Linked DNA regions of Homo sapiens: region 2 is linked to region 1. The links come from fine-mapping of genetic effects on gene expression. A gene starts in region 1. The other region holds a variant in brackets. All regions are shown on one strand. Distances are from middle to middle.

The links.
Region 2: its variant is fine-mapped to the expression of MAFTRR in testis (GTEx, PIP above 0.99). The same link has a PIP of 0.9 or more in breast, sun-exposed skin, tibial artery, transverse colon and unexposed skin.

What each region holds. Positions count from the first base shown.
Region 1 is chr16:79,767,654-79,773,032 of GRCh38, reverse strand. It overlaps MAFTRR (MAF transcriptional regulator RNA), which reads left to right and starts at 2,501. Exons shown (of 6, transcript NR_104663.1): 1 at 2,501-2,586; 2 at 3,811-3,880. It overlaps LINC01229 (long intergenic non-protein coding RNA 1229), which reads right to left and starts at 2,562. Exons shown (of 4, transcript NR_104660.1): 1 at 2,506-2,562. RefSeq lists silencers at 2,242-2,291, 2,216-2,414 and an enhancer at 2,412-2,461.
Region 2 is chr16:79,713,569-79,718,947 of GRCh38, reverse strand. LOC105371356 (a long non-coding RNA gene) reads right to left here. Exons shown (of 5, transcript XR_001752268.2): 3 at 4,814-5,112; 4 at 4,061-4,133. Among named protein-coding and RNA genes, the nearest start is that of LINC01229, 54 kb to the left of the region's middle. RefSeq lists an enhancer at 5,185-5,314. The variant A/G (reference allele first, on the strand shown) is at 2,228.

The sequences.
Region 1 (5,379 bases):
TATGGTTATTTATTAAGTCAATAACCTCTCTTCACAGGAACTGATTACATAATGTTTTATGGTATTTTTCTGTTCGTACAGAAAAGCAAGAAAGAGCCCTGGGTCAGAAGTCGGGCAAAGTGGATTCTAACCTACATATCACTACCACCTAGCTGTGTAACCTGTAGTAACTTAGCCTATTTCTCAGGGCCTCAGTTTCCCTCAACACCAAATAAAGTGCTCCAAAATTTGGAGATGGTTTCAAAGCCATGTCAGAGTCCCTTACAACTGCCACAGAGTGTGATTATCTTTGTTGGTAAACTAAGTGTCAGGGAAACACTCAGGCTTTCTTCTCATTTATTTCAGACTTTCACGCCATTGGTGATTTACTGATCATTTCATCTCTTAACTAAGAGAATTAGATCAACATAATCCAGAGAATAAAAACTAGGCCAATCTTTACTAGAAAAGAAGATTCAGATTTCAGGGTAACACAGATGGAAGAACATGTGGCTTTTCTGCCAGGCCCAGTGGAAGTGTATTCAAGGTTTGTTCCCTCCAGGGATAGCCGGCATCACACCAACCTCACTCACAGTCCAGTGTTTACAGGCACTCGAAAACCTCCTAAGAGTGTATTTCATAAAAGCAGGGCCTGTCCAAATCCCCTGTAATGTCTCCAAAGTGAAAGGATAGAGTCAATAATCAGGACTGTATCTGTGTGTTGTAAATGCCCCAAACCTCTATTCCCTCTCTGAGTTCTCACAGGCACGTGTGCATGCACACACACACATAAACACAGCCATAAATATATACACTCCCATTTAATAGACTGGAGATTCAAATTACAGTTATAGTGTCATAAAACTATCTGTAGGGTGTGTGCAGAAGTCTAAGTGTGTGTGTGATGTGGGTTGGGGTGGCAAGCTTACAACCTTCCTCCTTCCCTTGAGGTTCGACATTCTCAAAACGTGAGATTCCTCTGGGACATTTAAATAAGCTGTATTCATAGGGGCGGCTACATAATTTGCAGACCCAGTGCAAAATGAAAACACGGGACCTCTTCTTCAAATCGTATTAATAACTTCAAAACAGCAACAGCAGAGCAGTAAACCAAGTGTAAGACCTTCTAAGTACAGAATCTGTGCATTTGGGCTGGTCACACACCCACAAAGCAAGCTGGGGTTTGAGGATAACACATAGAGAGAGTCTGGATTCGATTTTTGCAATATACACCATTTCTTTAGGAAAGTTCAAACTTTCCCTCTGAAGGCTCTAATCTAAGTCTGCTGAATGAATTGACAAGAAATTAACAGGAGAAAAGCCATAACAAAGCTATTCAATCATAGTTTTATGTGACATGGGAGCCCTCAAAATGAAGACCGCAAGTCCCAGATAAAAATAGATACCCCGGGTATCTGTTTTTACCCGGGCTTAAGTTTGATGAAGCATGGATAGCCAGGTAGAAATAGGGTTAGACAAAGAAGAGTCTGATCTAATAGCAAGAGACTGAGGCAGAAAACCCAGCACGGCCTGTCTGTTCAAATTTTTCTTAGCTTCTCTATGTAGCACGTCTTCCTCTCCAGTATGGGGCAGGACCTACAACCCACAAGGTAGGTCAGAGAATTTCTTTATGGCCATTTCTGAAAAGTGCTTGCAGAGGTTCCTGGCATCATGAAACCAGAGTGTCTTGGGAATCAGACTGGCTTGGGTTTGAATCCTGTGTAACCATGTACTAACAGAATTTCTCTGACACTTCCACTCACCATTTTGAACTTCAATTTCCCATCTATTAAATGGAGACAGGGCAACCCACTCTCCGAATTACAATTAATTAGAGGATTAAATGCAATAAGGCATAGAAAGCAAACAAAATTCGAGGTCAAAGCCCGGTACATAATAAATGTTCCAAATTGCCCTTCATTTTGGGCACAGATCTTGCAGATCAGTTCAAACAAAAACACACTATATATTAAAAGTGAGGCTATTGTAATTGAAGACCAAGAGAGATTCGGAAACCTGACAAATCGTTTTCAACCTGTCCGTTCTTTTGCCTCTAATGAGACTTCTCCTTTGGGTGGGAAGAGATGACCTTCTGAAAAGGCCCTCCGTCCGCGTCAGAATTTGGCGACTAAAGCATGCATGAGCTGGGAATGGTGACAAGTTGCAAAGGGAAAGGGGGAGGGTAGGCAGGGTAAGAAAGAAAACTTAGGGCTGGGGTGTGAAGGGTCTCTTGGTTTGTTTTCCTGGCTGGGACAGCGAACTTCTCCGCAGCCAAGTTTCTGGAGCGGGGCCGGCCGCTTCGCGGCTCCCATTGGTCCGGCCGCGGCTGTTGCTAGGCGGATGGACCAATGGCGCGCGAAGGGCGTCTGGGCTCCTCCTCTTCTGGGCCGCGGCTGGAGCCCGGGAAGCGGCGGCGTCCGCGCTTCTCCCGGCGGCTCTTTCTCTTCTTCTTTTTTTTTTTTTTTTTTAAGGCGGGGCGGGGCTGGGGGCGCGGCGTCGCGGAGCTCGGGCCGGTGGAAGGTTTACCTGCTAGGCTCGTCCCACCTGTGTGGAGCTCCCATCGCCCTCCAGCGTTGCGCAGCCTGAAGGGACAGGACGGACAAGCGGGTATTTTTTCCCCCTCACGCAAATGTGTATTTTGTGTTTTAATAATTTTATCAACTCGGTGAACTCTCGCGAGAGCACTCGCTGCGTGTCTTGCCTCTGTCGTCCTTCCCAGTCTCTAACCGGCCCCTGGGCCACCTCTCACAATTGAGCCCCCAGCCCTTGAACACACGCACACACGCACACACGCTGAGCTACCGCCAATGCTTGAGCCCCCAGCCCTTACACACACCCATACACGTGCACAAACACACACACACGCTGAACCAACTTCAACACTTGAGCCCCCAGCCCCTAGAGAGAGACACACACACACACGCTGATGCGGGAGCATTTAGCACAGTTTCCTTGCTGAAAAAGCAGGACCTCGGTTTAGAAAATGGAAATTGCCCAGGAGGAAAAGAGAGCTGAGATATATGCAGCCCCAGGTACTTAGGGTTAGTAATAATATTGTTAATAATACTATCGTTTCTGAGGGGTTTCTACCAGATACTGTGTTGAGTAGTTGCCATGCTTAATCCTATTTAGAGCTTGGTGTGCCCATGGGTAAACAGAGGCACTGAGCAGGGGAGGCAGAAGCAGGACTGGAAACTGTCTGTGTAACTTTGGAGCTCTTGGTTCTATCCACTTACTGGTGTGGTTGCATGGCTGTACAACTGCCCATGTGGTTATGGCCCCCATCTGGGGATAGGTCTCAGTAGAACCTACATCGCCAGGGCTATGCCAGCCTTATGCAGTCCTATGCATAACTACCAATTCTCAGAATGAGCATGTTTATCACCCTTGGCCCATCCTGCCCCATCACTGTATTTAACACTTGCATCTTAGGTGGATCTTCCTCAATAATCCTGGAATGAGTAGAAAAGACCCATGTTCTGTGTGTTTGGGGAACATCTTATCTTCATCCTGCAACACACATCCACCTCGGCAGCTTCCCCTCAACTAATGTGGGAACCACAACTCAGAGAGGAAAGTGACTGGATCAAGGCTACTCTGATCAAAGCTGGTCACTTCCCACATCTGTGAGACAGCAGAGCCAGTTCTCTGCTTGGTGAAGCAATTCCGTAAAAGCATTTCTCTAACAAGTGACTGCAGACTTCACGTGAACTCAGCTGCATACTGGAAGTCACTGTGATTCTAATTTTATGAAGAATTATCAAGTTGAGCATATTTAAAACTGTGTGGGGCTTTTTTTCTTATACAGTTTCCTTTTTTCTTTTTTTCAAGGTGCCTCCTTCTAATTCATCTTCACCATTGTGGTTGTCAATATGGCATGCAGAATTATCCCTCTTTCCAGGTGAGGACGCGGAGACATGGAGACACATGTAGCCCAGACACATAACAACACAGTAGGCAGGCCCAGTCTTGGAGCACAGATTCTTCCTCCCCCTCCCCACACCTTAGCTAGCTTCTTTGCTCTCCCTGAGTGCCTATGGCTTACAAGTTATCCATTTACAACAAAAGGTTGTTTATTCAGAATGTAGGGACTGGGAATACAGAAGCCAAAAAAAAAAAAATGAAGTGAGAAATGAAATCCCTTCTGTTTTGTTGTTTGGAAACTGCCTGGGAAGTGGCCTGCCAGCTAGGAACAGGGTTGGCTGGTGAAGAAGCCCCTGGCATGACATTTTTCTGCTTAGCAGATGCCTGTGTGCCACCCTCGCCCTTGCTCTGAGCCTGGCAGTCAAGGGAAACGTGTCTGTACTCACTGTGCTATTGTCTAAAAGGCTCAGCAGAAAGGCCCCAGCTAGCTTCCTTCTTCCCTTCGCAGCAGGAGAAGACCTAGGCATGCCCACCTCCTACCCTAACAGACAGCACCTAAGAGATGGTTCTTTTGATAACTTAAAGGAGATATTTTTGAACGTCAACACAAGACAGTATCGCCCAGCAAGGGAGAGGTTTTCGACTCCACCCATCCCCAGAGACTCACTTGGTCTCAGAGAGAGAGTACTGTCTCCTTTCCTTAAATCCCCCTAGCTTAAAAAGCCTAGCCAGAACCCTGCCTATAATCTTTCGCCGTAAAGTTTATCTTCTAACTTTTCTTTAAAACCTATGGAAAATAAAAATCGGGATTGGAGCAAAGCAGATTATTCTGTTTGCAGAGGCTGATATAATTGCTGGCTGTTTTCCCTGGGATCGCACTGTAACTCTTTAGGCAGCCCTGAATTTTAAAGGATGTTTGCAAAGCAGCTTTCTTCCTGAACACTGTCCTAAATCCCTCCTGTTGTAACCCTCCACTCCCTCTGTTTGCCCGGCTTTGCCCGGTGCAGTGAGACGCCTATCCACACAATGGTTTGTCTCTCCTGCTTTCAGTTTTCTTTTCAGCCAACAGCCTCACAAGCATTCTTTCTCCCTTCTGCAAGTATTCCTGTGGAGTGTGTTCTGCCTCTCTGCTAGACGCTGGGATATAGGGAGCCAACACAGACAGGGCTTACAGTCAAGTGGGAGAAATAATACCCAAACTTTCACAAACCCCAGCTTAACACTACTACAAAGATGTATGTTCATGACACAGTGACAACATACGCTAAAGGGACTTAAACCCAATTAGAGCAATCAAGACAGGCTTCATAGAGGAACAGACCTGTGAGGTCTCATAGATAGACAGAGGGTAGAAGTTGGAGATGAGAGTAGATAGAAGTAGAGCTAGCACAGGCAAGTGCCCTCTGCTGGGCTTCGCATCTGCCCTGAGAACAGTTAACAGAGCCTGTTCAGGCCAATCCACTTTCCATGGATGGGAAATTACTTTTTATGGAGACTGGTAAAAATTAGCTTCTCTAAGAACACTGGTCTTTCCCT
Region 2 (5,379 bases), 54 kb after region 1:
AGGAGGCCGAGGCGGGCAGATCACGAGGTCAGGAGATCGAGACCATCCTGGCTAACACGATGAAACCCCATCTCTACTAAAATACAAAAAATTAGCCAGGCATGGTGGCTGGCGCCTGTAGTCCCAGCTGCTCGGGAGGCTGAGGCAGGAGAATGGTGTGAACCCAGGAGGCGGAGCTTGCAGTGAACCGAGATTGTGGCACTGCACTCCAGCCTGGGCAACAGAGCGAGACTCCGTCTCAAAAAAAAAAAGAAATATAGATGTTTTTGTTCTCCATATGGTGAGCCAATTTCTCAATACCATCTACTAAATAATCTAACCATTCCCCATGATTTTTAAGCCATGTTAAACATATTTCAAGTCCTCATTTATAAAAAGGCCTGTCTCCTAGGCCTCTGTTCTGTTCACTGGTCTCTGTTCTCAAGCCAGAAGCAGACCAATTTTACGATGATGGTTTTGTAGAAGGTTAACATTTTGTAGGATAAGCCCCTCCTCCATATTCCTCTTCTTCACAGTTGGCCTAGCTCTCTGGGGGGACTTTACTCTTCTGTATCCATTTTAGCATTAATTTTTCTGTGTTCCACAACAAAAAATTTTAAAAAATACATCCAGCTGGAGTTTTTTTTTTTTTTGCAATTTCATTGCATCGCGTTTTCTTTTCATCCTTTAAATAAAACAAGACGTTTTTCTTCAGATGTTTTTCAGGTGTAAGCTGAGTCTTGGATATGTGCTCTCATTTCACATTGTAAGTCAAGGTGAAGGGTGTAACTCCAGTGAGGGACACTGGCACTTTTCTCCTGACCAGCACTGTCCCAGGGCACCCAGGAAGCCTTAGCTTTGGTACTGGGTTGGGATAGTTCTGTTAATGCCTGATCCCTTCTTGAGTAATGACTCTGCTCAGGAAACTGTGCCTCAGGGCTCAGATTTCCCTCCATTTAAGCTTGTGGCTTCTTGGCCTGGAGCTTGTTTCCTTCCCAAAATGTTTGTTAGTGCAGTGGCTTTTTATGGCACTTTATGGAAAAATTAAGGGGTGGGGTTGATGACCGTATTCTGCAAATCAGCCCGTCTTTAACCTTCGTTTACTGGAATTTGAGTCCTCTGCATACCTTGTTAGCAGAAAAAACTTCAAATATATTTTTTTCCATCCAAGCTCACAATTGGAATGTTCTTTACCTCTTAACTCAGGCCAGGACAAATGTGGCCCAGGTTCTGAAAAACAGCCTCTTATTTAAAAGGCTTGTACAGCAGCCTTCGCATAACATTTACGACTGCAGTTATCTACACATGGATCTAGAGGGGGCCTGGCCTGTGAAAATCAGAGGACAGAGGCCACTTCATCCTGCAAATTGCTCAGGCGGGCAGTGTTGGTGAACTCAGCCCTCACTCCCCGGAGCCCCTTTCTAGCTTTAAAATCATTCCTGGGGAACTATTGGATTAGAAAGGAGCCATTCAGAAGGTGGCAGTTTCTCTGCTTCTGGAAAAGGGGGTTAGGAGACTTAAGATACAACCCAGTCTCAGATAAAGGGTGGGAAGTCAGAGATATTGGCCGTGGTACTAGCAGAGGAACAAAGGCCAAAACAAGGTCTTCCAGACATGTCATGTTTTTCTTAGAACTAGGGCCTATATTACACACAAATTTGAGATTATCTCCGACATTTATCTAAAATTAACTGTGGTTTTCAAAAGAAAAACATTTAGGGGAGGATCAGATAAGAAGGAGGCCTATTTATAATACTTGCCACGGGGAGGGAAAGGGAAGAGAAAAAGCAAGAGCAAGAGCAAGAGCGAGAGCAAGAGAGAGAGAGAACGAGACAGAGATCCTTAAAATGATACTGAACATTCTTGCGACACCATAAGCCATAACTCTGACTCTCTTTCCCTGCCTTTTATGAATAACAGAAAAGAGAACTTTTATCCTGATCCGCTGTAGTTTCTTAGAGAAAATCCTGCTCCCAAGTAGAATGCTGGATTTCCATCTCATTCTAGTTATAGTCAGAATTGGGTTACAATCATTCTGAACCACTGAGTGTGGCACAAGTCAAAATGTTTGTTCCTAGAGATTGAGATATTAGTCAGTGATGTCTGGCTCTGAAATGGTTATTTATAGATTGGAACGACCTGGAGCAGCCAGCAGAGTGACAAATGAGGAAGAGGACAGAATCTAGCTGAAGAAGCTCTGGAAGATACCATTTGAAGTCTTGAGTGCTTGAACTCACAAAGAAAGCAC[A/G]TGAGTACACACTAGCACTTGAGCTCTTCATTTTAAACAGAATAAAGAATGTACTGCTATTATTGTCATTTTACAGATAGGGAAATTCAGACTCACCAGGGCTACTCAGATACAAAGAAAATGAGCCAGAATTTCAAGCAAGCCTGAGCTTAGAATCTACACTATTTTTTTTTTTTTTTTTGAGACATGGTCTTACTTTGTCACCCAGGCTGGAGTTCAGTGGTATTAGGTTGGCACAAAAGTAATTGTGGTCTCTGCCACTTAAAACTAGAGCCCGAAACTGCAATTACTTTTGCACCAACCTAATGCACTTACCAGAGCTCACTTACGCCTTGACCTCCTGGGCTCAAGTGATTCTCCCACCTCAGCCTCCCAAGTGGCTGGGAATGTGGGCATGCACCACCCTGCCCGGCTAGCTTTTCTTTCTTTTTTTTTTGTGGAGACAGGATTTTGCCATGTTGTCCCGGCTGGTCTTTAACTCCTGAGCTCAAACTATCCTTCTGCCCTGGCCTCCCAAAGTTCTGGGATTACAGGCATGAGCCACTGTGCCCGGCCCAGAACCTATGCTCCTAACTGCCACACCAATTGACCTCTATTCAGCCATTTTTATTTCTATAGCACTTGGTATAATTTCACTTTGCACACAGTATCTATAGATAATCATTCCAGGGCATGTAATCGTCATAAGATTATTTATGTTATTGCATGTGTATTACTGCATGTAATCTTCATGTGTTATTGCCTCTAACAAGTTATGTATTTCCATGTAGTCTTCATAACTGTGTATAGAAGACCATTTTAGAGATGGAAAACTGAGACTCAGAAGTGGTAATTGTCCTACTGGTCAGAGATTTAGCCAGGGTTTGGATTGTGGAATGCAGAGGACCACTTACTTTTCACTAGACCATAAATGCTCCTCACCACTGAGGCATGTCAAATGCCAGATATCTCCAGGAACCTTAGGCTACGTCTCCATTGTTTTTGCTTTTTCCCCCCTTAGACACAGCTTGGCAAAGAACAAATGATCCCAAACACCAAACAGCACACTTGGAAACATTTAACCCGCATACTTTCAGACTTTCTGGCATGGACCAACCTCTTGTCTTACCTTTGTTCCTGGCCAGAAAGAAATGGCATGAAAAGATGGACAGTTTTTATAACCTCTTTGAGCTCTAAACCATGTTTCCTGTGCACTTAGGAGATCTTAATAGAAACCAAGTACTTCTTTTAGGCATCTATACTCTTAATGCCGTAAGTCAAGTCAAGTACCCAGGTGGTTAAGATAACTGTACCAACAGAAACATTTTTAAAAAATATCCTAACACAACATGAAGTGACCATCGCGAATTCAAAGAAGCAGGCATATTTCTTAAAGGTTGAAAAGAGGTGAGTCTTTCACAAGATTCTAGCTCAAGGCCATATTTGCACAAGTATAGTCATTCCTCTAGCAAGGTTTTGTTTATCTGGCCATTAAAAAAAATTAAAACAACTTTTACTTTCGGCTGTTTGAACAAGAACTGTTTTTCCAGCTGTGCAGTCTAAGGAGGATACAAGAGGCCTGGTTTGGTTATATTTTTTCCAGAATAAGAAAGTTTCCTACACAATTCTGCTTGGGCTAAACTGCATACAGAGCAGTTTATTTATACTGTTTTATCGCACACCTGTTTGGATATGGGCTATTTTCTGGTATTTAAACATACCGTTTCTTGCCAATTGCTTTATCTTCAGAGTCCTATGGTTTGGCTGCAAATGTTTGTTATTAACTCAGAAAGAAACACCAATTGCTCTATGAACATTATTAGTGAGGACTAAGATAACTTAATTGTTACTTACTTCAAACATGTTATCACTGAAGAACTTTATCCCAGAAATCCATTCAAAATAAGGTAGAGGCCATTTCACTATACTTAAAGGGAAAAAAGGAGTTAACAAAGCCTTTTTGGAATACAATCTTTAATGAAACACTGTTTTTCTAAAAAAAGCCACCTGCTTATTTTGAGCTAGTATGTTGCAATGGAAGGAAAACATTGCCATTCTAGTCAGTAATGAGCTATTTTACCCACTAAGGAAGTTCTGGGATACACAGATGGCAGCCTGAGAATTTGGGCAAAAGCCCTGACTCCACTCACATGACTTTCTCTGAATCACTTAAACTCTAGGTACTTCTCTTATTATATCAGTAAAATGTGGGTCATAATAGCTATCCAGTAATTAGATCGTTTAAATCAACCCATCAATATTAAATAGCTATGATGTGATAAAGTTTGGTCTTGGCCTTGGGGTATAGAGATGAATGAGACAAAGTCTTTATATCTAGAAATTCACATTTCATAATGCTGCACATAGTAGGCCTCTCTTCTGTGTTAGGGGAATCTGAATATTTATGTGTAGATTCATTAGTAGCTAACTATAAAGTTAAAACGGAACCTATAGAGTTGCAATCTAACTGTTTATGTGAAGGGGTTAGTTTTATCTTGCAGCTAAAAAAGCAGACTAAAATACTAACTTAACAAACTCTATTAGTAGTCTATAACTGTGTAACAAACCATCCCCAAAGTATAGTGGTTTAAAAAAATAGGCACTTACTGCTCACAGTTTCTGTAAGTCAGAGCCCTCGGGTGGTTCAGTTGGGTGCTTCTGCCTTAAGGTCTTTCCATAGGCTGCAATTTGTTTGCTGGCCAGGGCTGCGGTCTCATCTGAAGGGTTAACTAAACGGAGATCTTCCAAGCACAGTCAAATAGCTGTTGGCATTGTTCAGTCCTTTGTGGAGGCTGCTGTACTGAGCACCTTAGTTCCTGGCTGGCTGTTGACTGGAAGGCACTCCCTCAGTTTCTTGACATGTGTGCCTCTCCATAGGGCAGTACATAAAGAGGTAGCTAGTTTCCCTGAGTAAGAGGGAGTGAGCAAAAAAGAAACCACATTCTCTGTGTAACCTAATTTTAGAAGTGACATTTCATCACTTTTTCGATCATCTGTTTAGCAGAAGAGAGCCAGTAGATCCAGCCCACACTCATGGGGAGTGGATTACACAAAGACAGGACTATCACAAGGCAGTGATATCTGGGGCCATCTTAGCGGCTGCCTACCATACAAATGGAAGCTACAATAGGTAAAGACCCATCAGCAGCCTCAACCCTATCTCAGTATAATGG